Linked DNA regions of Homo sapiens: regions 1, 2, 4, 5, 6 and 7 are each linked to region 3. The links come from fine-mapping of genetic effects on gene expression. A gene starts in region 3. Each other region holds a variant in brackets. All regions are shown on one strand. Distances are between the middles of the regions.

What was found. PIP is the estimated chance that this variant, and not a neighbour inherited with it, causes the effect.
Region 1: its variant is the best candidate, but not a certain one, in a credible set for the expression of UST in anterior cingulate cortex (GTEx, PIP 0.67).
Region 2: its variant is the best candidate, but not a certain one, in a credible set for the expression of UST in lymphoblastoid cells (GTEx, PIP 0.66).
Region 4: its variant is the best candidate, but not a certain one, in a credible set for the expression of UST in sigmoid colon (GTEx, PIP 0.58).
Region 5: its variant is the best candidate, but not a certain one, in a credible set for the expression of UST in whole blood (TOPMed, PIP 0.66).
Region 6: its variant is the best candidate, but not a certain one, in a credible set for the expression of UST in whole blood (INTERVAL, PIP 0.64).
Region 7: its variant is the best candidate, but not a certain one, in a credible set for the expression of UST in pancreas (GTEx, PIP 0.68).

Annotation. Positions count from the first base shown.
Region 1 is chr6:148,919,476-148,923,543 of GRCh38, forward strand. All of the region lies in intron 2 of UST (uronyl 2-sulfotransferase), which reads left to right. Among named protein-coding and RNA genes, the nearest start is that of UST-AS1, 43 kb to the right of the region's middle. The variant G/A (reference allele first, on the strand shown) is at 1,554.
Region 2 is chr6:148,682,273-148,686,340 of GRCh38, forward strand. No RefSeq gene overlaps it. Among named protein-coding and RNA genes, the nearest start is that of UST, 63 kb to the right of the region's middle. The variant G/A (reference allele first, on the strand shown) is at 1,875.
Region 3 is chr6:148,745,390-148,749,457 of GRCh38, forward strand. It overlaps UST (uronyl 2-sulfotransferase), which reads left to right and starts at 1,641. Exons shown (of 8, transcript NM_005715.3): 1 at 1,641-2,288. The coding sequence starts at 2,042. LOC124901425 (a long non-coding RNA gene) reads right to left here and starts at 210. Exons shown (of 2, transcript XR_007059806.1): 1 at 1-210. RefSeq lists enhancers at 1,270-1,329, 1,390-1,469, 2,778-3,279, 3,280-3,779 and silencers at 2,040-2,129, 2,430-2,599.
Region 4 is chr6:148,590,133-148,594,200 of GRCh38, forward strand. No RefSeq gene overlaps it. Among named protein-coding and RNA genes, the nearest start is that of UST, 150 kb to the right of the region's middle. The variant G/C (reference allele first, on the strand shown) is at 1,547.
Region 5 is chr6:148,856,553-148,860,620 of GRCh38, forward strand. All of the region lies in intron 1 of UST (uronyl 2-sulfotransferase), which reads left to right. Among named protein-coding and RNA genes, the nearest start is that of UST-AS1, 110 kb to the right of the region's middle. The variant C/T (reference allele first, on the strand shown) is at 2,268.
Region 6 is chr6:148,829,406-148,833,473 of GRCh38, forward strand. All of the region lies in intron 1 of UST (uronyl 2-sulfotransferase), which reads left to right. Among named protein-coding and RNA genes, the nearest start is that of UST, 84 kb to the left of the region's middle. The variant A/G (reference allele first, on the strand shown) is at 1,869.
Region 7 is chr6:148,772,456-148,776,523 of GRCh38, forward strand. All of the region lies in intron 1 of UST (uronyl 2-sulfotransferase), which reads left to right. LOC107986659 (a long non-coding RNA gene) reads right to left here and starts at 1,108. Exons shown (of 2, transcript XR_001744408.2): 1 at 1-1,108. The variant T/C (reference allele first, on the strand shown) is at 2,039.

The DNA of each region.
Region 1 (4,068 bases), 170 kb after region 3:
TGACTATCAACACCTGCTTCTATAGCCACAGTGAATTCCCAGTCCAGCAGGGAAGAAGGTATGTCTTTAAGGTTTTTCTACATAATGAAATAATTATGCTTTCATAATCTTGTCCCACAGGTACCATGGTGGTCATGGCAAAATGCAGAACCCAAAAGTTTTCAAAATAGTTTGTCTTCTGAAAACTGTTATTCAGTGCCAAGTTTGTTCTTGATGTTTTTCTTCTAAATATTTTGTCCTGTTTGATGAAACAAGTAATCTATGGTCATTATTTCTAAAACATATTTCCTTTTTTAATGGCTATGGCACCAGTTAAGCCTTTTAGACTTTCCAGGGTGTTGCCAGGTGGCTTCTGACTACTGTCATCCATTAAAATGGCTTAATTTGAGTTTGAGGACTAGACAGGAAGACACAGGTTTAAAGGCCCATATTTACTAGAATAACATTGTTAAAAGGAAACATTTTAATAAATTAACAGTTTATTTGAGCAAAATATGATTCATGGATCAGGCAGTTTTCAAAATCATAAGAGGTTCAGAGAGAGCTGCACTCTGCATCATGGGCAGTATTTATAGACAGAGTAGAAGGCAGGTACACAAAAAACTTGATTCCTTACAGCTCAGCTTTGCGTTCACTGGATGTGGTCTGATCAGTTGGTAGCCTGTTATTGGCTGAAGCTTAGACCGGCTTGTGATTGGCTGAGACCCAGCTATCTTTACACAAATTAGACTCCCAATTATGTTTCCATTCATTTAAATACATGGTAGATTTTGTTTCATCTTCAGGGTTTTTGATGCTAGCTGTTGACCTTTAGAGGACACATTGTGAGCCTCTTGGTCCTAATTGCTGTACGTTTTGAGACAGATCTTGCTGATGTCTTTGGTTCCAGCCTCGCCCCCACCACTCCATCCTCCACACTGGCCAATGTGGTCTCTCTGGAGGCCCCCTGCTTCACCCTCTTCTGATGCCCTGAGGATGGAGGGGTAGGAGCAAAGTTCTTCCCTCCCTTTTTCCACTCCAACCCTCCTGCCCACCCTCGAGAGGTTTCTTTGTTTGCTTTTATTTGTTTTTGAGACAAGATCTTGCTCTGTCACTCAGGCTGGAATGCGGTGGCCCAATCCTGGCTCACTGCAATCTCAACCTCCTGGGCTCAAGCAATCCTTCCACCTCAGCCTCCTGAGTAGCTGGGACCACAGGTGCATGCCACTATGCCTGGCTAGTTTTTGTTGTGTTTTGTAGAGATGAGATTCCACCATGTTGCCCAGGCTGCTCTCGAACTCCCAGGCTCAACCTACTCACTCGTCTCTACCTCCCAGTGCTTTTGTTTTTTAATAATTCCTTGTGATTTCTTGCCTGCTCTTTTAAAAGCAAGACTGGGACTCTTTAAGAGATGGTGTGTTATTTTTAATAAATCTCTGTACCCTGACCGTGTTCCCATCAGGAGCGTCAGAAGGACAAACAGCAGCTAAGTGAGCCTCTACCAGCGAGTGTTATAGACCCCTTTATAAGCTCTCCTCATTAGGCATTTCTGGCACCTAAAATAGATGGCTGGA[G/A]AGGTAATTAGATGCAGTTACTTGCAAAAGTCTCAGAGGCATTTTCTTGATAGTACACAAGAGGAGTCTATTAATTAGTTCTAACAAGGAAGGTTTAAATAACATCAGTTAATGGCCAATTGCTGGTGGCAACCAGGCAGACAGAATCCAGAGTCCCTGGGCTGAGCTTCATCCTTTGCCTGGAAGGGGAAGAGTTCCATGAAGACAGAGCTCCTGCCTGTAGTCTCTCTGGGAAGATTAAATACATACAGATTAAGGAGTTGAGAATAATTTAGTGCCAAGCTCTGTACTAATAATTGTAAGTCCAACAAGTGAACAGGAGAATCGCCCAGAGATGGAGAAGACGTGAGTGTTTGGGTCCAACAGCAATCATAACTTGCTTTTTCCTAAGTGATTTTGTGTGTTGTATAGTATGCTTGTTGTTTGTTGGGTGGTTGTGAAAAAGCATTCCATCCGTATGGGGAGATTAGGCTGGAGCCCCAAAACAAAAACTCTACCTCTCCAGGGACTCTCTGTCTGGCAGCCTATGAGGAACAGGTATTGTGTTAGAATTAATTAAGCATTTCCCTCTCTGGAGCCATCCTTTGGAATGCACACATCCCTGGGAGGAGAGACCCACCAAGCTTTCTGCACTCCAGGTGAACAGCTATAGAGAAACTTCCTCTGAGCAGGATGGACCTGGAGCATCCTTGTGGGTTATGGAAGCACAGGAAGGGGACAGAGGCCCTTCAGCATCCAGTCGCAGTCATGAAGTGCCACTCCCCATGGTCTGGTGCCTCTGGAGCCCCATCTCCCTCCAGTTGGCTGTCCCCACTGCCGCCACCCATGCCCCACTCTTCCACCCTGTGCCCCAGCCATGTGATACATCTCTACCCAGAGCAGGGCTCCAGTCCCCACCCTCTCCTCAAACACCCAGCATCATCAGAGCCAGAATTAGTAAGGAGGACATCGGCCACAGGAAACAACCTCAGATTTAACATGAGAGGGGAGTGGAGAAGAGAGCACTGGAAAGTCTCATGGTGGGGAAGAGAGATAAAATGTACACTATTGTTTTCAAAAATGTAATTCTATTCACATACCAGGAAATTCTCCCTTTTAAAGTGTACAATTCAGTGGTTTTTAGTATATTCACAAAATTTTGCCACCATTACCACTGTCCAATTCAAAGCATTTTTGTCACTCCAAAAAGAAACCCTGTACCTATTGACTGTCACTCCCCACATCCCCCATGACCTCCAACCCCTGACAACCACTAGCATACTGCCTGTCTCTATGATTTTGCCTACAGGATTCTGAGCATTTCATATAAGTGGAATCATACAATATACAATATGTGGCCTTTATGTCTGACTTCTCTTACTCAGCATAATGTTTTCGAGGTCTGTCCATGTAGGAGGTATCAGTTCATTTCTTTCTATGGCAGAATACTATTCCTTATTTGCATAGAGATGATCTTTCTTTTTCTTTTTTTTTTTTTTGAGTCGGAGTCTCGCTCTGTCCCCCAGGCTGGAGTGCAGTGGCACGATCTCAGCTCACTGCAAGCTCCCTCTCGCGGGTTCACACCATTCTCCTGCCTCAGCCTCCTCAGTACCTAGGAGTACCTAGGTACTTTTTTTTTGTATTTTCTATAGAGACAGGGTTTCACTGTGTTAGCCAGGATGGTCTTGATCTCCTGACCTCGTGATCCGCCCGCCTCGGCCTCCCAAATTGCTGGGATTACAGGCATGAGCCACCATACCTGGCCTTCTTTTATTATTATTATTATTTTATTTATTTATTTTTGAGATGGAGTCTCTCTCTGTCACCCAGGCTGGAGTGCAGTGGCACGATCTCGGCTTACTGCAACCTCCACCTCCCAGGTTCAAGCAGTTCTCATGCCTCAACGTCCCAAGTAGCTGGGATTACAGGCATGCCCCATGACACCTGGCTAATTTTTTAATTTTTAGTAGAGATGGAGTTTCACCGTGTTGGCCAGGCTGGTCTCAAACTCTTGGCCTGGCCTCAAGTGATCCACCCATCTCGGCCTCCCAAAGTGCTGAGATTACAGGCATAAGCCTTTTAGTGTCCAGCTGCCTGTACCCAACTCCCACCCTTAAAAAAAATGCTTATGCTTAAAATAGTGACATTGCATGGACATACCATGTTTTAGTTATCTGCTTATCATTTCATGGGCATTTCAGTCGTCTCCACTTTTGGGTTATTATGAATAATGCTTCTACGAATATTTCAATACAAGACTTTGGGGACATATCTTGGGTATACACCTAGGAGTGGAATTTCTGGGTCATATAGTAACTCTATGTTTAGCTTTTTGAGGAGCTGCCAGACTGTTTTCCAAAGTGGATGCACCATTTTACATTCCACCAGCAATGTAGGAGGCTTCCAGTGTCTTTGTATCCTTGCCAACATTTGTCATTGTTCATCTTTTTGATTATAGTCAGCCAGGTGGCTATAAAGTGGTATCTCATTGTGATTACTCCATGTTTTTTAATCAGTGTTTAAAGGGTTAGCATGT
Region 2 (4,068 bases), 63 kb before region 3:
TCCGCCGCCAAGGTTTCCCCAGGACAGCGATGGTTTGACTTTGTTTATTCCTGCTGTTACGCATCAGGCCAGAATATGCTCAGGAGCTACAGAATTGTTTATTTAAACACACACACGTGCGTGCACACACACGTGCATACACACACATGCACACACAGGCTCACGTGCACACAAGCACACACGTGGACACACACACACACAGGCACATGTGAACGTACACACGTGTGTGCAAGCACACATGCGTGCATGGACACACACCACGCACACACACACTCGCACACACACACATTTTTTCTCTTATTAGAAAAGTAACATTTTGGAAATCTCAGGGAAAAAAATTGATAAACCAAAAGATAAAAACAATGCCACATTGAATTTCACACAGAGCTGTCTTTGTGGATATCCTTTCATTATTTTGCCTATTCGTGTGTGTGTTCCCGTGTGCACGTGTACATGTGCACATGTGATCATAAAAAACTGGACAGAATTCTGTTATTAAAAAGTCCCAATTTAAAATAGAATAGTTTGGTCTAAGTTTAAAATTACATTTTAAGATATGGCTTATTATACCATGTTTGCTTTAAAGATGACCTCTCTACAGCTTATGCTAACTCTCCAGTAGCTTCCATAAAATATTAAAAACTAGTTCTGCCTCTCCTAAAGGAAGGCACTTTTATTTTCTTACACTCATTTTAATGCCTAAAATAAGAGCTTCCTCCCTCTCCCCCAATATGGTCACTATCTTCAGGACGTACTAAATCAGGAAGCTTCTCAATTCTTTCTTCCTCTACTAGTTCCTCTTTTTGGAAGAAGTTACTTTCTTAACTGGACAGATGGAAGAGTCCAACAGGCTCTGAACTGAGCCAAAGCAGAAGTGGAATCCAACACCAGGGAGCAGGTCCACATCTCCACCTCCTCCCATTTCACCTTCCCTCGTGGTGAGCTCAGCAGGAAGGGCCTCTCCTGACTGAAACTCCCCAGCCGCATTGTCTGTGGCTGCGAGGGGAAGTCAGATTCAGCCGGGGGAGAAGAAGGAAGCCTCACTCTCCCCCTAACCCTTTGGCACTCTGTGACCTCCCATCTGTCTCCTGTTTACACAGCAAACTGATTAGAACCCAGAGGAGAGCAAGAGTATGATTAGTCAGCACCCCAAATCTCAAGAATGGTCCCTATAGGATACGCTCTGTATGTTGTAATATGCAGATATGTGCACCGTGTGTGGTGTGTTAAGTATACATTGTAGATTATACTTACATTGTAATGTGCTTGTACATTAAATTACAAGTAGATTTTTATAAATTGCACAGGGAAGTTTCAACTTCCTTTAGGGCTCCATAATTAAGCTTCCTAGAATAGCTTAGAAAACAAATTTGCAATCATGTCAAAGCTAACCTATAACTTTAGTATAAAATTTAGCAAAATACATGCTGGGTAAAGAGCCATTGAAATATACTTTAAAACCACCAACCATTCTCACTTAGGTGAGAGCAACAGGGTAAGTTTCATTTACTTAGAAGTTAGTTTTGTTGTTTTTTAGTTTAGGGCCTGGCTAAGGCTCCTTCATTCCCTCTGCATTCTTCATACCTCACGTCTGTAAATACCACGAGATGCTCCCCACATGCAACTGTCCAGAAGCATGTCATCCCATTCTCAGTCTCAAATGGACTTTGTTCTTTTCAAAGGAAGAGAGGTCTTACCTGAGGCAGAACTGCAGCCACTCCTGGGATTTAGACACTTCCGGTTACGTCTGGTGGGCAGGTAGGATGAGATGATGAAAGCCTATTTCCAGAGGCTAAGGAGGTTCCTAGGAGGTAATTCATCCTAAGGGAAGAAGGAACCGGGCACAACCAGCTTGATACCGCCATAGAGGCTTC[G/A]TGGTCAACGGTGGGGAGGAATTTGGAGCACAGTGTTGTGCCAGTTTCACAGATCTGTCATCAGTACACAAGACTCTACATCTGGGTTCTAGGAAGAGAAGGGGCTGTAAGTCATAATTGGAGCATTTATTTATTTATTTAGGCTAACACTGGGATATACTTGCTTTGCTTGGGTAATTCCCTAAAGGAATGTGATATGAGAGAGATAGGGAAGGGGACAGTGGCCAGCAGACAGTGTTGGTACCTGGAAGCTTCCCAGGCATCGCTGGTGGCAGCTGAAGCTGTGGTCGTAGGCAGAGGTCTGTGCCTACAGCAGCACTACCCAGAAGGAGACCACCAGGTCTGGAGGGTGTGGTGGGCCCTGCAGAATCTGGGTGGGGCTCTCCTGAGGCAGCATCAGGGGTGATATCCTGCAGGGGCAGGGCCAGGGCCAGCAGAGCAGTCTGCTCCCAAGGACCCTGGGGTTAAGGGATGGAATGCTTACTAATTATACTCTAAATCTGGACCTCCGGGCTCAAACTGCCAGAAGCCCAGACAGGATGGAGGGATAAGAAAAGGAAACAGGAAATACTCAGAATTAAAGAAGAAATAGAGGTGCTAAAAGACCTTCTTACTGACACAGGTATCAGAATGGATAGATGGAAGATGACCTGAAACCTGGCCAGACACATTTCTAAGCACATGTGAAATGCATATGGGGAACCCTCAAGAGGAGGCTTTTGGTAGCTGGGGACCCACATGAATAGGTAGATTCTTGTTTCACTACAACAAAAATTATATCAAAGCGAAACAAAACTTGAACACAGAAACATCTATACTGGCCTAGAAAAGTGGAGACGAGAGGGAGGGAGAGAAATTGTCAAGGATTAAATTATGTTTGCAATCTCAAAACACATTCTGCAGCAGAGCCTGGGAGTCTATGTGTCCATTTATGTAATTTAGAGTGTTTTGTTCAACCATGATTTTGCAGGTTGGGCAGAGGTGGGGTGGGAGACTGATATTCATTGTTGCACAAGATGTTTTTGAATGGCAGAAATTAATTGCTGTTCATTCCATCTCAGGTTATACTATTTTCGTAGGATAACCTGAATTCATCTCAGTGATGCATCTTCAATGGGACTGAGGTATGTGTGCTTAGAATAGACTAAGAGCAGGAATTGCAGTGTTAGAAGGACTTGTGGTTTGCTCTTGTTTGGATTACCTTCCAGAAATAAAAATAATATATAAAACTCCAGCTGCCCCTTAGCACTAACTACATTAAGTTTAAGCATTACCCAGTGATATATAAATAAAAATGCCACATTATTTTTATGGAAAGTAATTTAAAGCCCCATAAATGGAGTCATATTTATCTGTGATTCTCACTGCTGTTAAGACCCCGTCTGTATCTCCTTCATTTCAGGGAAACCTGAAGTTCCTTCAGAAATAAAAAGGGTAACTTCCTGGTCCCAGTAACCTTTATAACTAGGATACTTTATTTTTTTTCTAAAATCTTACTTAGGGCTGGGCACGCTGGCTCACGTCTGTAATCCCAGCAGTTTGGGAAGCCGAGGCAGGCAGATCGCTTAAGGTCAGGAGTTCAAGACTAGCCTGGCCAACATGGCGAAACCCCATCTCTACTAAAAATACAAAAATTAGCTGGGCATGGTGGTGGGTACCTGTAATCTTAGCTACTCGGGAGGCTGAGTCAGGAGAATTGCTTGAACCTGGGAGGCAGAGGTTGTAGTGACCTGAGATAGCACCACTGCACTCCAGCCTGGGTGACAGAGCAAGACTCCATCTCAAAAAATAAATATATAATAAAAAAAAATCTTAGAGTTTGAGGATGCAGAATTTAATTTAATGTTATCAGGGCAATGTTTTTTTCTTATCTTGGGGTTACTTAGCTTAAATACTTTTCCTTTTTAATTATTAGAGAGACAGTGTGAGATCCTAAGTAGATATTGTAGAATCTCATCAAGGTATCTCTGACTCTCAAAAAGTCATTTTTGAGACGGTTGAGAGAGACAAAAGGACAACATAGACAAACTCATCTTTTTTTTAACAGCTTTATTAAGGTATAATTGATTTGCAAAAAACCCTGAACATTTAATGTATACAATTTGATGGGTTTGGACATAGGCACACACCTGTCTATAACCACAATCAAGGTAATAAACATATCCATCACTTCCAAAGCGTTTTTGTATGTTCC
Region 3 (4,068 bases):
TAAAATTGGACAGTAGAGTTGTGTGTGTGTACGTGTGTCTCTGTGTGTGTGCAGCACCTGTCACCTCATCTACACATCTCTCTAGCTCATGATATATGTTTCAAATCATGAACCAGAGACATTCATATATGAACATGGTTAAGACATATTCATTCTTTCTTTCTTTCTTTTCTTTTCTTTCTTTTTTTTTTTTTTTGAGACGGTGTCTCGCACTGTCGCCCAGGCTGGAGTGCAATGGCGCGATCTCGACTCACTGCAACCTCCGCCTCCCGGGTTCACACGATTCTCCTGCCTCAGCCTCCTGAGTAGCTGAGGTTAAGACATATTCTTAACGAGTAAGTTCTTTGTCTAGGATAATATTTTGTAATTTTCCACAGAATATTCTTCAGATGCCTAACTTGATGAAGGTTTTCAGGAGCCTAGTCTTAGAATCATAGAGGTTCTTGGCTCCTGGTTCCTTCTTAAATCCAATTGTTCATTACTGGAATATACAAATGAGTAGGGAGCCAGAAATGATAGGCACCAGAAACTGAGGTTTCCATTTCTCAATGTGGCCTGAACTAAATGAATTAAATCTCATCCTCCTATGGGACGTGAAGGAAAAGGGCTCTGGCTGGGAAGTACTGCTGTGCAGTGGTTAGTATAGTGGGTCTGAGGGTCAAATAGATTTGAGTGCAACTCCCAACCCAACTCCTACTACTAGCTTTGGGACCTCGGGTGAGTCACACAGCCCTCAGGTGCTACAGCTTCTATAAATAGTGATATAGTATTCTTACTTAAAGTGTGGCTGATCAGAGCAGCCCTTCCGTGGATCAACCACCCCATCAGAGGATCTATGTCTAGGATTGAGCCTTTTCTGCCCCAGGAGGTTCTTTCAGGTCCAGAGGCTTTCCCGTGGAGGGAAGAGAGGCAGCAATGAAATCAGCGTATAGGCGGACTGGGCTCTTTCCCCTTCATGTCTGCAGGGCAATGACCTCCTAGAGTCCGCTATGCACCCCCCACTTGCCTCTCTGGGCACTGCGAGGTGGAGCAGTTGTAGGACCAGGAAAAGCAAGAACAGAGCGTCCTCTTCGGCTACCCTACCCGGGAGTTCAGGCGCTGCGCCTGGCCCTCTGGGGCGTGTTTGACCATAACTCGCACCGCTTGCTCTTTTCCCATTTCAGCAAAGTCTTGAGCCTGTATTCTAGTACCTTTTATCAGCCTTGGGTAAGCAGCTCGCACGGGGTATATAAGGAGAATCAACTTTCTGAACTGAAAAAAATGTAAATAGTAAAGTCAGTCGTGCTTCTTCCTGCCGGTGACTGTTTACAAGAGGGAAGTCAGCGGGGCCCCCAAGAGGTCGCTGGTGGCGCAGGAACCGCATCCAGATTGTAAAGAACGGGGGAAGGAAAAAAAAAGAAAACACCCAGAAACTTTCTTCCTTGTTGCGAATAATCGCCGCCTCCCCCCCTCCGCCCCCAGCAGAAGCAGTAACGTGACACCCGAGCGAAATCCCGAGACCCGAGCGGAGAGGGAGGGGAGAGGGAGGAGAGTGCTGCGGAGCGCCGGAGGGAGAAAGGGGAGGAGAAGGAGGAAAACCCCTGTCAAGGAGGTGGAGCGAGGGGATGGTGTCCGCCTCCTGTTCCTCCCTGCCGTTTTTTAGAGAAGCCTGAACCGGGACAAAACACGCCGAGACCTACAGACACAAAGCCGGGGGGTCCACGCTGGCGCTGGAGGCGAGCCCCGGCGGCCGCAAGCGAGCCCGAGGCGCGGCGGGGCGCGGGGCGTGGGGACGCTAGCGGGCGCCGGACGGGCGCGGCGCCCCGTCACGGGCAGCGCCCCGAACCGGGGCCGGACACCTCGGCCGCTCGGGCCGCGGCGGCGGGGACCATGCCGAAGAAAGTCTCCTGAGCCCGGCAACTTCGGCCCCTCCCCGCCCCCACCCGGCTGCCCTCCGCGCGGCCCTCCCCATGTGCAGCCGGCCAGCCGGGCTCTCCTCCTCGCGGCGGATGGGTGACCTTTTCCTGGCACGGGCAGGCTGTGGGAGGCAGCGGAGCAGGCGATGAAGAAGAAGCAGCAGCATCCCGGCGGCGGCGCGGATCCCTGGCCCCATGGGGCCCCTATGGGGGGCGCCCCTCCGGGCCTGGGCAGCTGGAAGCGTCGGGTGCCCCTGCTGCCTTTCCTGCGCTTCTCCCTCCGGGACTACGGCTTCTGCATGGCCACCCTGCTGGTCTTCTGCCTGGGCTCCCTCCTCTATCAGCTCAGCGGGGGACCCCCTCGCTTCCTGCTCGACCTGCGGCAGTACTTGGGTAAGGAAGCTGGGCAGGCGCTAGGGCGGCGCCGACAGCGCAAAGTTGTGCGGCGGGGAGAGGGTCGCGGCGGGGACTTCTCGCGCTGCCACCGCGCGCCGCCGCCGCCCCGGGTCTCTCCAGGTGCTAAGCCCGTGAGCATCTGTGCCGCGGTCGGGAGCGCCTTCTTCCTCCCGCGCGTCCGACTGTCCTCACCGAGGCGGGGGCGCCGCTGGGTTGCGCTGCCGGCAGGTACCCCGGGGCGAGGCACCGCTCACCTTCCCCCCGCCCCACCTCCGCCACCCGGATCCGGACTGGGGCGGAGTGGATGGGTGTGTGGGGTGTGCCGGAGTGTGTGTATCTTCAGGCCTGGCGGCGCGGGGAGTGGCGAAGGGAAGGGAAGGTCCTCTTCGTTGCATTGTTAGTGACCGCAGTTCAGTCCCGTCCCGCGCCCCGGGGAGTGTGGGTGGGTTTAGCCCTTTGCCACCGTCCGCTCTGAGAATTCTGTCCCGCAGATCCCCCGCCTGCCCGCCGGCCCTAGTGGCTCCGCGCTGTCCCCGGGCTGGCTTGTCCCTTGGCTGCCGCTGCCCACCCCGCCGCCCGCAGCTAGCCTGGCGCGGGGAACGGGTTGCATCCAGGGGTTTGGGGATGCCCGAGGGCGCTGGTCAGCCTGGCCAGCAGTGTCGCCCCCAGTAACCCGAGGATCCTCGGCGCTGTGTGCGTCTCAAGCTCAAGTCAAAACTTGTGTGTGTGTGTGTGTGTGTGTGTGTGTGTGTGTGTGTGTGTGTGTGTGTGTGGTTTATTAGGAGAGAGGCCGCCTGTCTTTAGCAGAAGTAAGGAAGGGGTTTGACGGGAGGGAAAGAGCCGCTCCAGCGAGAAGGCGTGACCCCGCAGCTCCCTCGTCTCGGCTGCGGGAGCCAGGGGTGCCAGGGACAGGCGAGCGCAAGCCCAGGTCGCAAGGACGATGCTGGCACTCGCGTTCGAGCCAAGGGAGGATGCAGATCCCTCCCAAGTCTGTGGCCAGAAGAGGTCGTGCGGGGGTGAAGGCTGGGAGAGCTCCAGCTTCTTGCAAGCATCCGAAGTGATAAGCCTGAGCATCTGCACGATGAGAGCGAGTGCGGGGAAGCAGAGCCACCGAAGTGCTGGAAAGAAAATGGGCCAAATGACCCGGGCCAGCTGGAGGCTGCCACAGTTACCCCAAACGTCACTTCGTGGCAGAAGCCACAGGTCTAGATAGTAGACCGTTTGGAGAAAAGAGAAAAGAAAAGGAAAAAAAAAAAACCCAAAACAAACAAACAAAACAAAGCAAAACAAAAACAAAACCACATCAGCCAAGTTACAAATGTGTTAGGGCATTTGGAAATGTAGATGTGGATAAAATAATATTCTTTACCTTGTACAAGACCTCATATTTTAAAAGTTACACTTTTATTTCTTTATAAACTTTGGGGAACTACAGATTACAGGAAAAGTTGGCCCAAGTAGATTTCCATAGCATTTGGTTTCATAGAGGATTTGGGGCAATATATCCTTTATTAGGGAATCAAACCTCTTCTTTTCATAAGTTCTGTATTGTGGAGTCTCATAGCTTCCTCCACTCTCTGACACCTGCTAGTGCCACAAAAGTTAACAGTATTTTCATCACCAGCAGCAATCCCTGTTAACAGGCATTGGGAGGCAAGCGTTGAGGCTCAGGGTCTTTCTCCATTAAATCTGACAGTGAATTCTTGTGGAAGTTCTTTTTAAGTAATAGATGGAGGCCAGGGGTGTAGGGAAAAGTGTAATGGACCAGGATGGAAGT
Region 4 (4,068 bases), 160 kb before region 3:
GGCAAGACCCTCCACTGGCAAAGCTTACAATGTGTCAAAGGCTCAGATGATTGTTAGCATTTTTTAGCAATCAAGCATTTTTAAATTAAGGTATGTGAATTGTTTTCTTAGACATAATGATTTTGCACACAATAAACTGTGGTATAGTGTAAACATAACTTTTAGATATACTGGGAAAACAAAAAAATTTTTGTGACGTGCATTTTTGTGACATTCACTTTATTGCAGTGGTTTGAACAGGACCCACAATATCTCCAACGTATTCCTGTATACACCTGGACCTTAACCAGTGGGAAAAATGAGCAGCAAAGTTGTCCTGGGTCAACTAGAGCTGGAAAGTGTCGGGGCTGGGACAAACCAGGCACTATCTGTGCCCAGCCCCCTCTCAGCTCCACTAAACAGCTTTTTTTCCTCCTTCAGCTCAAGGGCCACCAAAGTGAGGGGGGCTGGTGATGTCTGTGGTGCCCCTGTCCATTCATGCCCAAAACAGGTGAGAATGGAACCACACAAAAGTGAAAATGAAACTGGTGGGGAGGAGGAAATAAGGTTCAGAGGGAAAGAATAGGGGTGCACACAGGAAAAAGAAGAAAAACAAAGGGGAGACTTTCACAGATTGCCTAGCCATGGCACTGGCACAGGCAGTAAATGATGTGGATTCTGTCTTGGGACATGTGGCTACTCTATTCTGAAAATGTCATTTGCTTAAAAAAAAAAATTATCTATTGCCATTTAGCCCTCCTGGATATGCAACTTAAAAAAATCAAATACAGAAATTGGGTTATTTTCTCCAAATAAATTGAGAATATTTTATATTACTTATTGTGTCTTTATAGTAGAAGATATTGCGAGTTTTTCACCTAACGTTTTCCTTTTTGTCATGGACGCACAACTGGATTGCATTTCCCAGCCTCTCTCACGGGTAGGTGTGGTCACATGACTGAGTTCTAGCCAATGGAATGTGAGAGGAAGCCAGAGCTGACGCATAGAACCTCTCACGTTATTTTCCCTTCCATGGTGACATGGGAAGCATCCATTGAAGAAGGTGGAGCCATGGGTGGGAAAGGAGCCTGATCCCTCAGTTATAGTCAGCCCTCCAAATCTGTGGGCTCCACATCCTTGGATCCAACCAATGCTGACTTGAAAATATTTGAAACAACAACAACAAAAATAACAATATAACAACAAAAAATAATACAAATAGGAAACAATATACAGTAACAACTATTTACACAACATTTACATTATATTAGGTATTTAAATTTTTTTTAGAGTTGGGGTCTCACTATGTTGCCCAGGCTGGAGTGCAGTAGCACAATCATAGCTTACTGCCATCTCAAACTCTGGGGCTCAGGCCATCTTCCCACCTCAGCCTCCCAATGTGTTAGGATTACAGGTGTGAGCCATTGCACCTGGCCTGTGTTAAGTATTATAAGTAATCTAGAGATGATTTAAAGTATACAGAAGGATGTGCACAGGTTATATGCAAATACTATGCCATTTTGTATCAGGGACTTGAGCATCCAGGGATTTTGGTATCTGCAGAGTT[G/C]TGGAACCAATCCCCCAGGGAGGCTGAGGGATGATTAAACTTTTTGTGTGTGTGTGTGTGTGAAGTATTTGACAGGTTTACATCACTGCTCACCACTAGGGAACAAATTAATCATTTTTTCTGTGCCTCAGTCTTTTCCTTATCTGAAAATATTGATAGCAACTACCTCCTGGGGCTATTGGAAGTACTAAATGAGTCAATATTTTCACACTTAGAATAGGGCTCTGCTTAGAGTAAGCACTACATAAGGATATATTAAATAGTGAAAGCTCTATAAGTGTCAGTATTATATTAGCCTTTATGGCTGTTAAGGACTGAATATTTGTGTATCCTCAAAATTCTTATGTTGAAATCTTAATCCTCAATGTGACAATACTTGGAGATAGCAACTATGAGAAGGTAATAAAATTAACTGAGGTCACACATATGGGTCCCTAATCTGATAGGTCTGGTACCTTTTTTTAAATTTTTTTTTTGAGATGGAGTCTCGCTCTGTTGCCCAGGCTGGAGTGCAATGGTGCGATCTCAGCTCACTGCAACCTCTGCCTCCCAGGCTCAAGTGATTCTCCTGCCTCAGACTCCCGAGTAGCTGGGACTACAGGCACGTGCCACCACACCCGGCTAATTTTTTATATTTTTTGTAGAGACAGGGTTTCACCATGTTAGCCAGGATGGTCTCCATCTCCTGACCTCTTGATCCTCCCGCATTGGCCTCCCAAAGTGCTGGGATTACAGGCGTGAGCCACCACGCCTGGCCTGGTGCTCTTTTAAGAAGAGGAAAATATATCAGCATTCTCTCTCTGCACACGTGTGCACCAAGGAAGGTCATGAAAGGACACTGTGAGAAGGTGCCATCTGCAATCCAGGAGGGGAGTCCTCACCAGACACGAAATCTGCCAGCACCTTGATCTTGGACTTCTTAGCCTCTACAACTGTGAGAAAATAAATTTCTGTTGTTTAAGACATGCAGTCTGTGATACTTTGTTCTGGCAGCCCAAGCAGATGAACACAATGGCTATTCTAAACATTTTAAGACATTTCCTTGAATGGTAATGAGAATAACCTTGGTTGATAGGTTTTCTTTTTTCAGGATGGCATAAAAGTTAGGAGTTGAGGTTGAGGTGTCAGATGAGTTGGCCTGGGTTCAAATCTTGGCTTTGCAGTACTGTGAGACATGAAAAATTTACTTAACTCCACTAAGTCTTAATTTTCTCATTAATAGGACTATAATATCTACTTCATAGGGCTATTGGAGGATTAATGAGATAATGTTTGTAAAAAAAAATTCAGTGGAGTGCCTGGCACATAGTTAGTCCTAATTAATCTCAGAATCTGTTTTTTTTGGTTGTTATTGTTGTTGTTGTTTACTTTTTGGCGCCAAAACTCTTCCTTGAAGCAAAATCTTAGATAAATAGCCAATCCAGCATAGATGGAAGCAGAGGGTAGGGCTTGGAAGGGAGGAGACCCTCTGTCCACCCACGGGCTTCTCCTCACATCCAGTGACATTCTCCAGAGTGTCCCTGAGTCACCTCTGTGGAATCCTAGCACTGCTCAGCACAGTTTGATCATTTATAGGACTTGAAGTTCCCTAAACGATTATTTTGTTCCAGTTTTAACATTGTTATGACTACGAGAAGTGGCATGTGGCCGTGAAATGGAAGTGGAAGTTGAAATTATACTCACACGACCTTTTCCCTATGTTTGGGCCTCTTCTGACTTAGCAAATGACTTCCACCACTGCCTCTCACGCTCACGGGTTAAGCCCCCTCTCTACAGGAGTCGCCGCCCTTTCTCCCGTCTGCTTCTGCTGCATGGAGAGGGGTGGCAGGACGCTGACATGATGCTGACATGATGCTGTTGCCCTGCTGCCTGGGGCCCCATTGAGGGGTCCAGGCTCCAGATGAGGAGTGAGAGCTCATGAGATTTCATTTGTAGAGCCGGATGGCTAAGTTTCTGACAGATAAGGCCCTCAGCCAGTTACAAGGCATGGTTGTGAAACTAAATTATCTAGGGAAAAAAATGAGCCGTTCTGACACCCCCGTGCCTTCATCCAGTCAAAAGTTAAATTATCGCCCAAATTTTCCCTCTGTACCTCTACTTAGCGGTACAAGTGTAAGCCATACATAAAACTCCAGTTAACTCTGACTGGGCAGGAGTGGCTCCATTTCCCTTGCATTCAGAGGAGGCCACGTGGCTGCTGAAACCCTTAGGGGACTTTCACTCCCACTGGGATGAAATTTTAAGTCTTAACCATGGTCTCTGACCTCATATCCTCTCCGTCTCCTCCTGACCCTTGCTGCTCCAGTCACTCTTGTCTGGGGTTCCTCGAGCATGTGAAGTATTTTCCACTGTCTGAGCCTTTGCACATCTGTTCCTGTGACCTTCCTCCCAGAGAGCCACGGAGCTCCATTCTTCATCAACTTCCTCCTCAAAAAGGCCTTCCTTGCTTGCCGTGTCTAAAACAGCATCACCGATCCCTCTCTAAAATTGTGCCCTGCCAACATACAGTTACGTAGGAGGAA
Region 5 (4,068 bases), 110 kb after region 3:
GTCAATAAAGGCCAGTGACTAGGCGGTAGCTACCTCTTGAAGAGATGGGACTAGGGTTGCGGGGCGGGCTTTCCCACATAATCTCTTGTGGGATGTCAGAGATGATCTGGGTAAATCACGTGTTTATGCGTGAGTTATTTGCCTTGGTCAGGAAGGCTGCCTTTGAACTGACTAGAATAGAAAAATGACAGGTGTAAACTTGCCCTAAGTTACATTTCAGGTTGGTCTTCATACCAAAGCTTATGGAGAATTGGGATCTAAACTGTTACTGTGGTTGAATCCCTGACTTTCTCTTTTTTCCTCCTTTTTTGAGGAGGAAAATCAGAGATAACATTTTAGAATAAATAATTTATTATAGCTGAATTACTTAATACTGGCAATGAGAGCTTTGTGATATATATATTACATTATATAATAAATTACATATATTATTACATATATTACTTATATATACATAATATATAAACTATATGCCTATTATATATAATTTAAAGGAGGGAATGAATGTAGGTGTAGTAGTATGTCATCTTAGAATTTTTTGGGCTTTTCATCATTTTTATGAGGAAGTCAATTAACAACATCTTGAAATTGTTAAACACATTCAGTGAACAGAACTTGGCTTCAACTGTGAATTTTCACCACAAGCTCTGCAACAAATTGTAGGGATGCTCTAAGGAGAGCCACAGCTACTCTCACGGTCAGAGCCCCCTAAGCACACACATACACACCAAGCTGATTCTGCCTGTCATTCTCATGACTATACGGTTTCCCACTGTAAATGTATATTCCTTTTATCACAACTGAGTTGAGTCATAGCCATCCTTTAAGGCACAGCGAATGTATTACGCCCACCGTAAGTTCTGCCAACATTGTATCTACTCCTTCCCGTGAATGCACAGTCAATTAACACAACTGGGTAAGTATATCTAACTTACCAAGGGCAGAACTTAGAGCACAGACTGTATTTGCACCATGACATTAGATACTCGGTTATAGTCATCTTAACTCCAATTCTGCATATGAGGAAAAGAGACTCAGAAAAGCTGAGTGGCTTGACCGATATTGTAGAGCTTATTCATGGTGAAGATTCCAGGTGGTCTTGAAGTGCTCTTACCCCTTATGAAATTTCCCAGATGTGAGGCAGATGTTGCAGTGAGCTGAGATCATGCCACTGCACTCCAGCCTGGGAGACAGAGTGAGTCTCCATCTCAAAAAAAAAAAAAAAAAATTCCCAGATGTTTGAGGAGGAAGAAGCATAGCAAGTGCTTCTCCACCTCTGTTTATTTTTTCTGTCTGATCCAGGTCTGGGTGGCTAGTGGTTGAGAAACCACAGGATAGTGGTTTCTCCTGTCAGTGAATAGGAATCTTCATTAGGCAAAAAACAACACTTGGGCGAAAATGAAAAAAAACCCAAGTATGTGTTGAATGCAAAGAGTATGTTTACTTGTAGCAACATTATAGAATATATTGTGTAATGCAAACATACACAATGCCTTCTAAGACTGTGAAAGCATTTTTTATTAGTCAGTGTTCTGTAGAGGCACAGAACTAATAGGCTAGATGTATATATGAAGGGAGTTTATTAAGGAGTATTGACTCACACGATCACAAGGTGAAGTGCCACAGCAGGCCATCTGCAAGCTGAGGAACAGGGAAGCCAATCCAAGTCCCAAAACCTCAGAAGTAAGGAAGCCTACAGTACAGCCTTCAGTCTGTGGCCAAAGGCCTGAGAGCCCCTGGAAAATCACTGATGTAACAAGAGTCCAAAAGCTGAAGAACTTGGGTCTGATGTTCGAGGGCAGGAAGTATTCAGCATGGGAGAAAGATGGAGAAAGCTGATTTGATGGTGCCCACCCAGATAGAGGGTGGGTCTGCCTCTCCAGTCCACTGACTCAAATGGCAACACCCTCACAGACATACCCAGGAACAACATTTGCATCTTTCTTTTTTTTTTTTTAATTATACTTTAAGTTCTAGGGTACATGTGCACAATGTGCAGGTTTGTTACATATGTATTCATGTGCTATATTGGTGCGCTGCACCCATTAACTCGTCATTTACATTAGGTATATCTCCTAATGCTATCCCTCCCCCCTTGCCCCACCCCACAACAGGCCCGGGCGTGTGATGTTCCCCACCCTGTGTCCATGTGTTCTCATTGTTCAGTTCCCACCTATGAGTGAGAACATGTGGTGTTTGGTTTTCTGTCCTTGCAACAGTTTGCTCAGAATGATCGTTTCCAGCTTCATCCATGTCTCTACAAAGGA[C/T]GTGAACTCATCCTTTTTTTATGGCTGCATAGTATTCCATGGTGTATATGTGCCACATTTTTTTAATCCAGCCTATCATTGATGGACATTTGGGTTGGTTCCAAGTCTTTGCTGTTGTGAATAGTGCCGCAATAAACATACGTGTGCATGTGTCTTTATAGCAGCATGATTTATAATCCTTTGGGTATATACCCAGTAATGGGATGGCTTGGTCAAATGGTATTTCTAGTTCTAGATCCTTGAGGAATCTCCACACTGTCTTCCACAATGGTTGAACTAGTTTACAGTCCTACCAACAGTGTAAAAGTGTTCCTATTTCTCCACATCCTCTTCAGCACCTGTTGTTTCCTGACTTTTTACCATTCTAACTGGTGTGAGATGGTATCTCATTGTGGTTTTGATTTGCATTTCTCTGATGGCCAGTGATGATGAGGATATTTTCATGTGTCTGTTGGCTGCATAAATGTCTTCTTTTGAGAAGTGTCTGTTCATATCCTTTGCCCACTTTTTGATGGGGTTGTTTGATTTTTTTCTTGGAAATTTGTTTGAGTTCTTTGTAGATTCTGGATATTAGCCCTTTGTCAGATGGGTAGATTGTAAAAATTTTCTCCCATTCTGTAGGTTGCCTGTTCACTCTGATGGTAGTTTCTTTTGCTGTGCAGAAGCTCTTTAGTTTAATTAGATCCCATTTGTCAATTTTGGCTTTTGTTGCCATTGCTTTTGGTGTTTTAGTCATGAAGTCCTTGCCCATGCCTAGGTCCTGAATGGTATTGCCTAGGTTTTCTTCTAGGGTTTTTATGGTTTTAGGTCTAACATTTAAGTCTTTAATCCATCTCGAATTAATTTTTGTATAAGGTGTAAGGAAGGGATCCAGTTTCAGCTTTCTACATATGGCCAGCCAGTTTTCCCAGCACCATTTATTAAATAGGGAATCCTTTCCCCATTGCTGGTTTTTGTCAGGTTTGTCAAAGATCAGATGGTTGTAGATGTGTGGTATTATTTCTGAGGGCTCTGTTCTGTTCCATTGATCTATATCTCTGTTTTGGTACCAGTACCGTGCTGTTTTGGTTACTGTAGCCTTGTCATTTAGTTTGAAGTCAGGTAGAATGATGCCTCCAGCTTTGTTCTTTTGGCTTAGGATTGTCTTGGCAATGCAGGCTCTTTTTTGGTTCCACATGAACTTTAAAGTAGTTTTTTTCCAATTCTGTGAAGAAAGTCATTGGTAGCTTAATGGGGATGGCATTGAATCTACAAATTACCTTGGGCAGTATGGCCATTTTCACGATATTGATTCTTCCTATCCATGAGCATGGAATGTTCTTCCATTTGTTTGTGTCCTCTTTTATTTCTTTGAGCAGTGGTTTGTAGTTCTCTTTGAAGATGTCCTTCACATCACTTGTACGTTGGATTCCTAGGTATTTTATTCTCTTTGAAGCAATTGTGAATGGGAGTTCACTCATGATTTGGCTCTCTGTTTGTCTGTTATTGGTGTATAGGAATGCTTGTGATTTTTGCACATTGATTTTGTATCCTGAGACTTCGCTGAAGTTGCTTATCAGCTTAAGGAGATTTTGGGCTGAGATGATGGGGTTTTCTAAATATACAGTCATGTCATCTGCAAACAGGGACAATTTGACTTCCTCTTTTCCTAATTGAATACCCTTTATTTCTTTCTCCTGCCTGATTGCCCTGGCCAGAGCTTCCAACACTATGTTGAACAGGAGTGGTGAGAGAGGGCATCCCTGTCTTGTGCCAGTTTTCAAAGGGAATGCTTCCAGTTTTTGCCCATTCAGTATGATAC
Region 6 (4,068 bases), 84 kb after region 3:
TCTTCAGCCATGTGTGAGCATCATTGTGAAGCGGGCAGAGCACATGGGCTAATTATATATTGTATGAGATTCCAGACACAAGAATTAAGTGTTCTCTGTGCTGTTCAGTCTACTTCCAAAATCCGGCTCAAATCCACCCCACTCTCACCATCTCTACTTGCCCTTTTGAGGCCATCATTTCTCTGCTGGACTCTGCACCAGCCTCTCCCTGTGATCACTGTGTTCTCCTGGTTTCATGACTCACAGACGAGTGTTCTCCTTATTTTTACCCTCGGTTTGTTTGGAATGGTTGGGGGTTCACTTTTATATATTCAGAAACACTTGTTTTAATACTTTGTTCTTTGTAGTCCTCTTCTTTCTAATAGTTACTCATAGCTTCAATTCTCAAAACACAAAACAATTTTACCAACCCATCATTATGTATTTCTCTACTTGCTTTGGTCTGACCTAGGGACTATTATTTTGGAAGGTGTTTTAAAAAGTAATTTCATAGTTTGTGACTTAAAGTGCAAGAACATCCTGGGGTTAGTAGCACAGGAAAAGACTTGCATATCACTTTGTTAACATTTAAAAACCACCAGGCACTACACTTAAAAGATGGATGATGAATGCCACATAAAGCCTACAACTCCTGAAGCCTCTTGTCCATGAGGCTGGGTGAGTGAAAAACAGCAAAACCTGAGATCTGTGATTTTTAAGGTAATTGGAGAAACCAATACCTCCCTAAAATAGTTCCCTTAATAGAGTGACTTACTGAATTGCTCAAAGTTCAGACATGAGGAGGTGCTTTGTAGAATTTGCTGGAAACTGGACCACACCCACCAATTTCTTGCCAGTTTGTGGCAAGTGGGCCAGGTTTTGTCTGGCAACATGATGCATGCATTCAAAAACTGTATTTTCTATTATCCTTTCATTTCTACATTTATAGTATAACTAGTTTAGAGCACAAAAGAGATATGGCAATTAATATGGGAAGTGATAGACCCAACACATATTCTATCCAATTCTATCCCCACAAAGACGACCGGACTAAGCAGCAGCCCCAGGGTCTTGCCGCATCGTTTCCTTTCGGGAGCACTCACCCACAATGTGTTGGGTGCCACAATGCACTGAAAATGTGACCACTGCCCTTGATCATAGAACTATGGAACCTTAGTGCTAGATGAGACCTTAGAGGTTTTCTAGTCCAGTGGTTTTTTGGATTAGAAACTAGGAAGAGCATTACTTGGGGACTGTCAAGTAAAAACATTTTTAAAAATTCTACCATCAAGAAATTACGCTAAGTGAAAGGAGCAAGATGCAAAAAGACACTGTTTTATGATTCCACTCATTTGAAGTACCTAGAGTAGTCAAATTCATAGAAACGAAAATAAAATGGTGGTTGCCAGAGACAGGGGGGAGGAGGAAATGGGGAGCTATTGTGTAATGTGTAGAGTTTCAGTTTGGGCTAATGAGAAAGTTATGGAGAGGGATAGTGGTGATGACTGCACAACATTGTGAATGTATTTAATGCCACTGAACTGTCCACTTAAAAATGGTAAATTATATATGTATTTTGCCACAGTAAAATTCTGCTTTCATCACCGTTGCTTGAAAGAAAAGAAATTTTTACATTGAAAAGAAAGGAAAATTAAAAGAAAGATGAAAGAAAAAGAAAGAAAAGGGGGGGGTGGGAAGAATCAATCTTGAAGGAAATTCCTTTAAAATGATTAAATATAACTTTAGGAAGCAGATCAACACATTGCCCTTTGTGCCCTTTGCTTTCGTCTTTCTCACAGACTAGACCAGCGCCGACTGTTTCGCAGCCACATACCAGCATCTGGAAGCTACTGTAACTTCTGCGGTACAATTCTCTCATTTTGCAGATG[A/G]AAAAATTCAGGTGCAGAGAGAGGAAGTGTCTTTTCCACAGCCACAGGGTGTATTTGTGACTGGGACAGTCATTTCATGACTCACAGACAAGTATTCTTTTTACTTTATTATTATAGGAAATTCGCCTTATAGTTTAGTTTTGTTTTATTAAGTCTTTATTGCTATTGGCTTCAGATTTAGTTATCACTTATAGAATCCCTTCTGAGTGCCAGGCATTGTATTTTCTATTTTCACTTAGCAGACATTTATATAGTGCTTATCGGAAGCAAGACACTGTGCTAAGTGCCCGACAAATAAGAAGTCATATAATCCTAACAGTAACCCTCAGAGATGAGAACAATTGTTATCCCCTATTTTAAAAATAAGGAAAACTAGCTGAGTGCGGTGGCTCATGCATGTGGTCCCAGCTACTCGGCAGGCTGAGGCAAGAAGATTGTTTGAGCCAAGGAGTTTAAGGCTGCAGAGAGCTATGATTGTGCCACTGCATTCCAGCCTGCACAGAGTACAGCCCTATCTCTTAAAAAAAATAAAAAAAAGAAAGTAGGTGGGGTGGAACTGAGACCCAGATTGCTTAAATACTTTCCCGAAGTCATATATAGGGCTAGTAAGTGGTGGATTCCAATTCAGTTTTGACTCACTGCAGTTAAACTCAATTACCCAACCTGATGATAAACAATGGGTCTAATACTTGTAAATACATTTGGTAGAATATTAATTGACTTTACTTATTTATTTATTTGAGACAATCTCTCTCTATTGCCCAGGCTGGAGTGCAGTGGCGCAGTCTCAGTTCATTGCAGCCTCCACCGCCTGGATTCAAGCGATTCTGCCTCAACCTCCTAAGTAGCTGGGATTGCACGCATGCACCACCACGCCCAGTTAATTTTTGTATTTTTAGTAGAGACAGGGTTTCGCCATGTTGGCCAGGCTGGTCTTGAATTCCTGACCTCAGGTGATCCACCTGCCTCGGCCTCCCAAAAGAATATTAATTGACTTTAAACCAAACACCGTAAATGTGTTCTTCCTGACTCTGAGATGTATCTGAGGATATTGTGAGATCTTTATTGAAATCATCCAAAATGGGATGCCAAGTTTTGGTGTGCATATTAATTTTTTTTAATCCTTGAAAAAACTATCAACTGAACATCTTGCTTATGGATATAATTTACATGTCTTAGTATGAAGCCCTTAGGATCTGAGTACAGCACAAGTGTAATTTAAAGATGTAGCTGAGACAGACCAAAAACTGATCAGCATCCCATAGAGTGAAATAACCATGTGCCGCGTTAGGTTGGGGTGATGGTGTCAGGACTATCACACATTGAGTTGGTTATAAACCTGATGGTGATTTAGTTGTTTGGAGGAGCATTTTCATCAGAAGTCCAAGTAATCTTGCATTGGAAAGTGAATTAGAAAATGCAAATCCAGTGGCATGAGCCTTAGGATACAATACCTTATTAGAGTTGGGATACCCAGTGGTGCAGTGTAGTCAGTTTCTATTTGGAGCTCGGTCAGATGAGTTTTAGTTGATATTTAGGTAAGGACTCAAAACTCCTGAAGTATTATATTCTTTGATTTGTTTTTCAACTTGCTTCTTAAAATTAACAAGCAATGCCAAGACAGTATTGTATTTCTATCTTTTCTTTGTCATAACTGTCAGAACAAATAGCCCATAGAAAAGCATGAGAAAAAGCCTTCATCTCAAATCGTTAATAACAAGAAAAGAAAGTATAGGAGCTCCCTTATCCAACACCATTTGATGGAATCATTCTTGACCCCCTGTCCTCCTGAGAAAAAGCACCAGATCATTCATGACCTTCTCACCACTGCTTCATTTAGGACTATGAAGACAGTATCATAGGGTATAATGAAACAGTTATCTGCAATGATAGAAAAATAGTATAAGCATGTTTTTTAAAATTGTGGAACCTGACCAGGCGCAGTGGCTCATGCCTGTAATCTCAGCACTTTGTGAGGCCAGGGCGGACGGATTGCTCGAGTTCGGGAGTTGGAGACCAGCCTGGGCAACACGGCGAAATCTGTCTCTCCAAAATATACAAAAATTAGCCAGGCATGGTGGCATGTACCTGTGATCCCAGCTACTTGGGAGAATGAGTTGGGAGGATCGCTTGAGCCCCGGAGGCAGAGCTTGCAGTGACCTGAGATCGTGCGACTGCACTCCAGCCTGGGTGAAAGAGA
Region 7 (4,068 bases), 27 kb after region 3:
TGTGTCACCCACGCTGGAGTGCAGTGGCACAATCTTGGCTCACTGCAACCTCTGCCTCCTGGGTTCAAGCGATTCTCATGCCTCAGCCTCCTAAGTAGCTGGGATTACAGGTGTGCACCACCATGCCCGGCTAATATTTGGCATTTTTAGAAGAGACAGGGTTTCGATATGTTGGTCAGGCTGGTCTCAAACTCCTGGCCTCAAGTGATCCTCCCACCTCGGCCTCCCAAAGTGCTGGGATTACAGGTTGAGCCACCGTGTCCAGCCCCTTCTGAGCTTTCAGTGTTACTCCCCATCCCTAAGACATGAGATCTGGGCCAGAATCTTTCTCAGAGGGGGAAATTCCAAATGAACATATTTTGAATGTCTTAAAACCTTATCTGTTAGAGGAACTTTTAAGAAAAGATCAAACATACTTCCAATTTTACAATAGTTGTCAATTAGAGGATGGAATTGATTTTACTATTTTTCAACAACTTTATTAACATTTTTTTGCGAACCTCTTTTTCCAATTCAGCAAACTTTTGCAAGTCTTGACATATTCTTATTCTAGGCATTGGTGGGTACGTGATCTCACAAAATTGTTTAAGGAATTTTAAAAAAAATTATAGAAAATAGGATCTATGTTGAAAGAATTATAAAGTGCATTACAATTTGAGACTTAAATTTCCATATCTTTTAATTTTACCTAAATTTATATGAATTTTAAAATGGTGATTGTTGGCCAGGTCTGGTGGCTCACGCCTGTAATCCCAACAATTTGGGTGGCTGAGATGGGTGGGATCACCTGAGGTCAGGAGTTCGAGACCAGCCTGGCCAACATGGTGAAACCCCATCTCTACCAAAAATACAAAAATTAGCCGGCTGTGGTGGCAGATGCCTTTAATCCCAGCTACTCAGGAGGCTGAGGCAGGAGAATCGCTTGAACCCGGGAAGTAGAGGTTGCAGTGAGCCAAGATTGTGCCACTGTACTCCAACCTGGGTGACAAGAGCAAAACTCTGTCTCAAAAAAAAAAAAAAGTGATTGTTTTTCATGTTTGGAATTATATGACATGTATGTATTAAGAGTCTAATTTATTTTTCAAGTATAAATGAGGTAAATGCAAATCCCAGAAGACTGTTTTCTATGCACACACAAAACTACATTTCTTTTAGTACACAGGGAAAGGTAAATATTCAAATTCTTTCCGTTGGGTGACATTTTGTTCACATATTTTTGTAGGGCATCCATACTTTTGTTTTACACTGAACAAAAGGACAGTGTGAGGGACAGATGTCAGAGTGAAGGTGTGAATTTGCACCAAATGCCAGGTTTAGGGCTCAGAATAGCATTTTTTTGTACGTGGGGCGCCATGAACGCAAAGACTTCCAGCGGGATGGGCGTTGAGCAGGGATTGTCTAAGAGGAATCAAATTGCCAAATGTCTGCTGCCAGATTATTCTTCCCTAAAATTGATCTCCCTGAGAACTTGTCTTGCGGCCCAATTCCCACCAGCTTCCCTCTGTCCTCCCCGACTTTATAAAGAAGCTTATCTGACTCTATGCTGGTGTCAAACACCTCCAGGTACCAAAGGAAGAATTCAAAATCCTGGCATGGAGAAAGTGAATGACTAGTGACTACAGCAAACCCTTTTGCAGGTCACGTGGCTCCTATTCTTGGCTTTCAACCAAAGTGAAGGAGGATCTAATCTAGTTATCCCCTCAGGTAGATCACCAACAGATCACTATGGGATTTAGAAAGATGTTAAAGAAGCGTGTGACACGGCTATAACTAAACACTCTCCATTCCTGTCTGTTAAAGCGAACAAGGTTATTTTATATATATATATATATATAAAAATATAATGAATAAATAGGAATAAAATTGAAATCAGTGAAATTTACTTATAGACAAGGCCCTATTCACTGTATTTATGATCAAATTCCACTTTTGATTTTAATTATTTGTGAAATGTGTAAAATCTTTATATTGTTTTGATCAACTGTGAAACAAAGGTAATCTTAATAATAACTCAAATTCAGGATATATAGTTTAAACT[T/C]TTAAAGCATTATGGTCACAAGAATATTTTTTAAATGAATTTTACTTTACCTACATAGTTTTGTCATGTAGAAATAGAACAGAGAGATCAATACAGTAATTTCAAGCGTGAAGTATAATCTGTTAGAACAAAAATCTGTGGGGGGAATGGAATGAAAATACAAGCTGAAAAATTTGTTACTCAGACTTTCTTTTCAGCATTTTTTAGAGGATTTGTGAATTTCAGAGAAAAATGAGTGCATGAGGTCAGGTGCGGTGGCTCACGCCTGTAATCCTAGCACTTCGGGAGGCCAAGGTGGGCGGATCACCTGAGGTCAGGAGTTCGAAACCAGCCTGACCAACATGGTGAAACCCCGTCTTTACTAAAAATACAAAATTAGCCAGGCATGGTGGCAGGCGCCTGTAATCCCAGCTACTGGGGAGGCTGGGGCAGGAGAATCACTTGAACCTGGGATGCGGGGGTTGCAGTCAGCCGAGATTACGCCACTACACTCCAGCCTGGAGTCTGACAGAGTGAGACTTCATCTCAAAGAAAAAAAAAAGAGTGCATGAAAGAAAAGCTTGTTAATTCCTCCTTGACTTCATAATGATCTCACCTCTAACAAGGGTTTCCCAATATTGAGAATATCTTAAACATACATATGCTATCCTCTCCGTCCCTCCTAGGCCCGCCCTCTACCTGAGGTAACTAGTATTCTTGGTCTTGTATTTATTGTTCTCTGCCAAGTTTTGCAGGGCTTGAATATTATGTGAATTTGACAGCTTCCTTTAGGACAAAGAATAAAACATTGTCAGTTAAAAAAAAATGCCCACTCCAGTGCAGTGTCGCCCAGCGTGAGAGGTTGTGTGGAGAAGGGGAAGTTAGGATGGAGCGAGGTGGTGGTCTTTACCAATGGCAGTTTCCTTTTGCAGATTTTGCAAAAAAAACGTGAGCATGTGCGTTTATTGTTAGAGCCACCCCTCAGACTTGGAAAGGAGCTCATAAAAGTAAGGGCTCCTGAAATTTAAACTTCAGCAGTCACTGTGAAACTACCTCTGTGTATGTGTATGTGTGTGCATGTGGGTGTGCATACACACATACATCCCTGAAAACTGTGTTGGTTTTAGTTGATTGTAACTCTTTTTTTAATTAAATTTTTTTTTTTTTGGGGCGGGGAGAGAGTCTCACTCTATCCCCCAGGCTGGAGTGCAGTGGCACGATCTTGGCTCACTGCAACCTCTGCTTCCTGGATTCAAGCAATTCTCCTGCCTCAGCCTCCCGAGTAGCTGGGATCACAGGCACACGCCTCCATGCCCAGCTAATTTTTTTTGAAATTTTTAGTAGAGATGGGGTTTCACCATGTTGGTCAGGCTGATCTCGAACTCCTGACCTCAGGAAATCTGCCCGCCTCAGCCTCCCAAAGTGCTGGGATTACGGGTGTGAGCCACTGCGCCCGGCCTGGTAAAATATGAATTTTATACCTTGTTCTAGGAGAACAGGACGTATATATTTGATTGTTATTGCTATTGTTTTATAACTTGGAGGAATTATGAGCTGAAATTTTATTACTTACACTTTATTTTCTGCATTTTTTAAAGGACATGTGAATTCCAGAGAATTGTCCTTATTTATTTTGGCTGAATTAATAGGGCAAATTTGCCTCCTCTGAAGGAAAAAAAATAGACAAGAAAGATCTCTTTAAATACCAGCCTGGTGTTGTTCTGTGTTAGAGAAATTCTGGCTTTTGCTTCAGACCTCCAGTCCTGGTTTCCAGAAGAGGAGCACTTTCTGGTTCTCATTCAGGCCCTTAGTGGATCTTCTTCCAAGATTTTTAAAAATATGACCATTAGCTTACATTTTCCTATGTGTTCAATCCTCTTCTCAGCAGAAGTGTTTGCGGTGGATTTTTGAGGGTGGGAGTGTGGTCAATGACGCAACTGAGCCTTTCAGGGACTTGGAAATAAAGCTGTTTTATTGTGATGACCAGTTTTGTGCAGAATCATCTCATTCTTTTCTGCACGTGGTGAGTTTTGAAGTGAAACTTAAAGTTT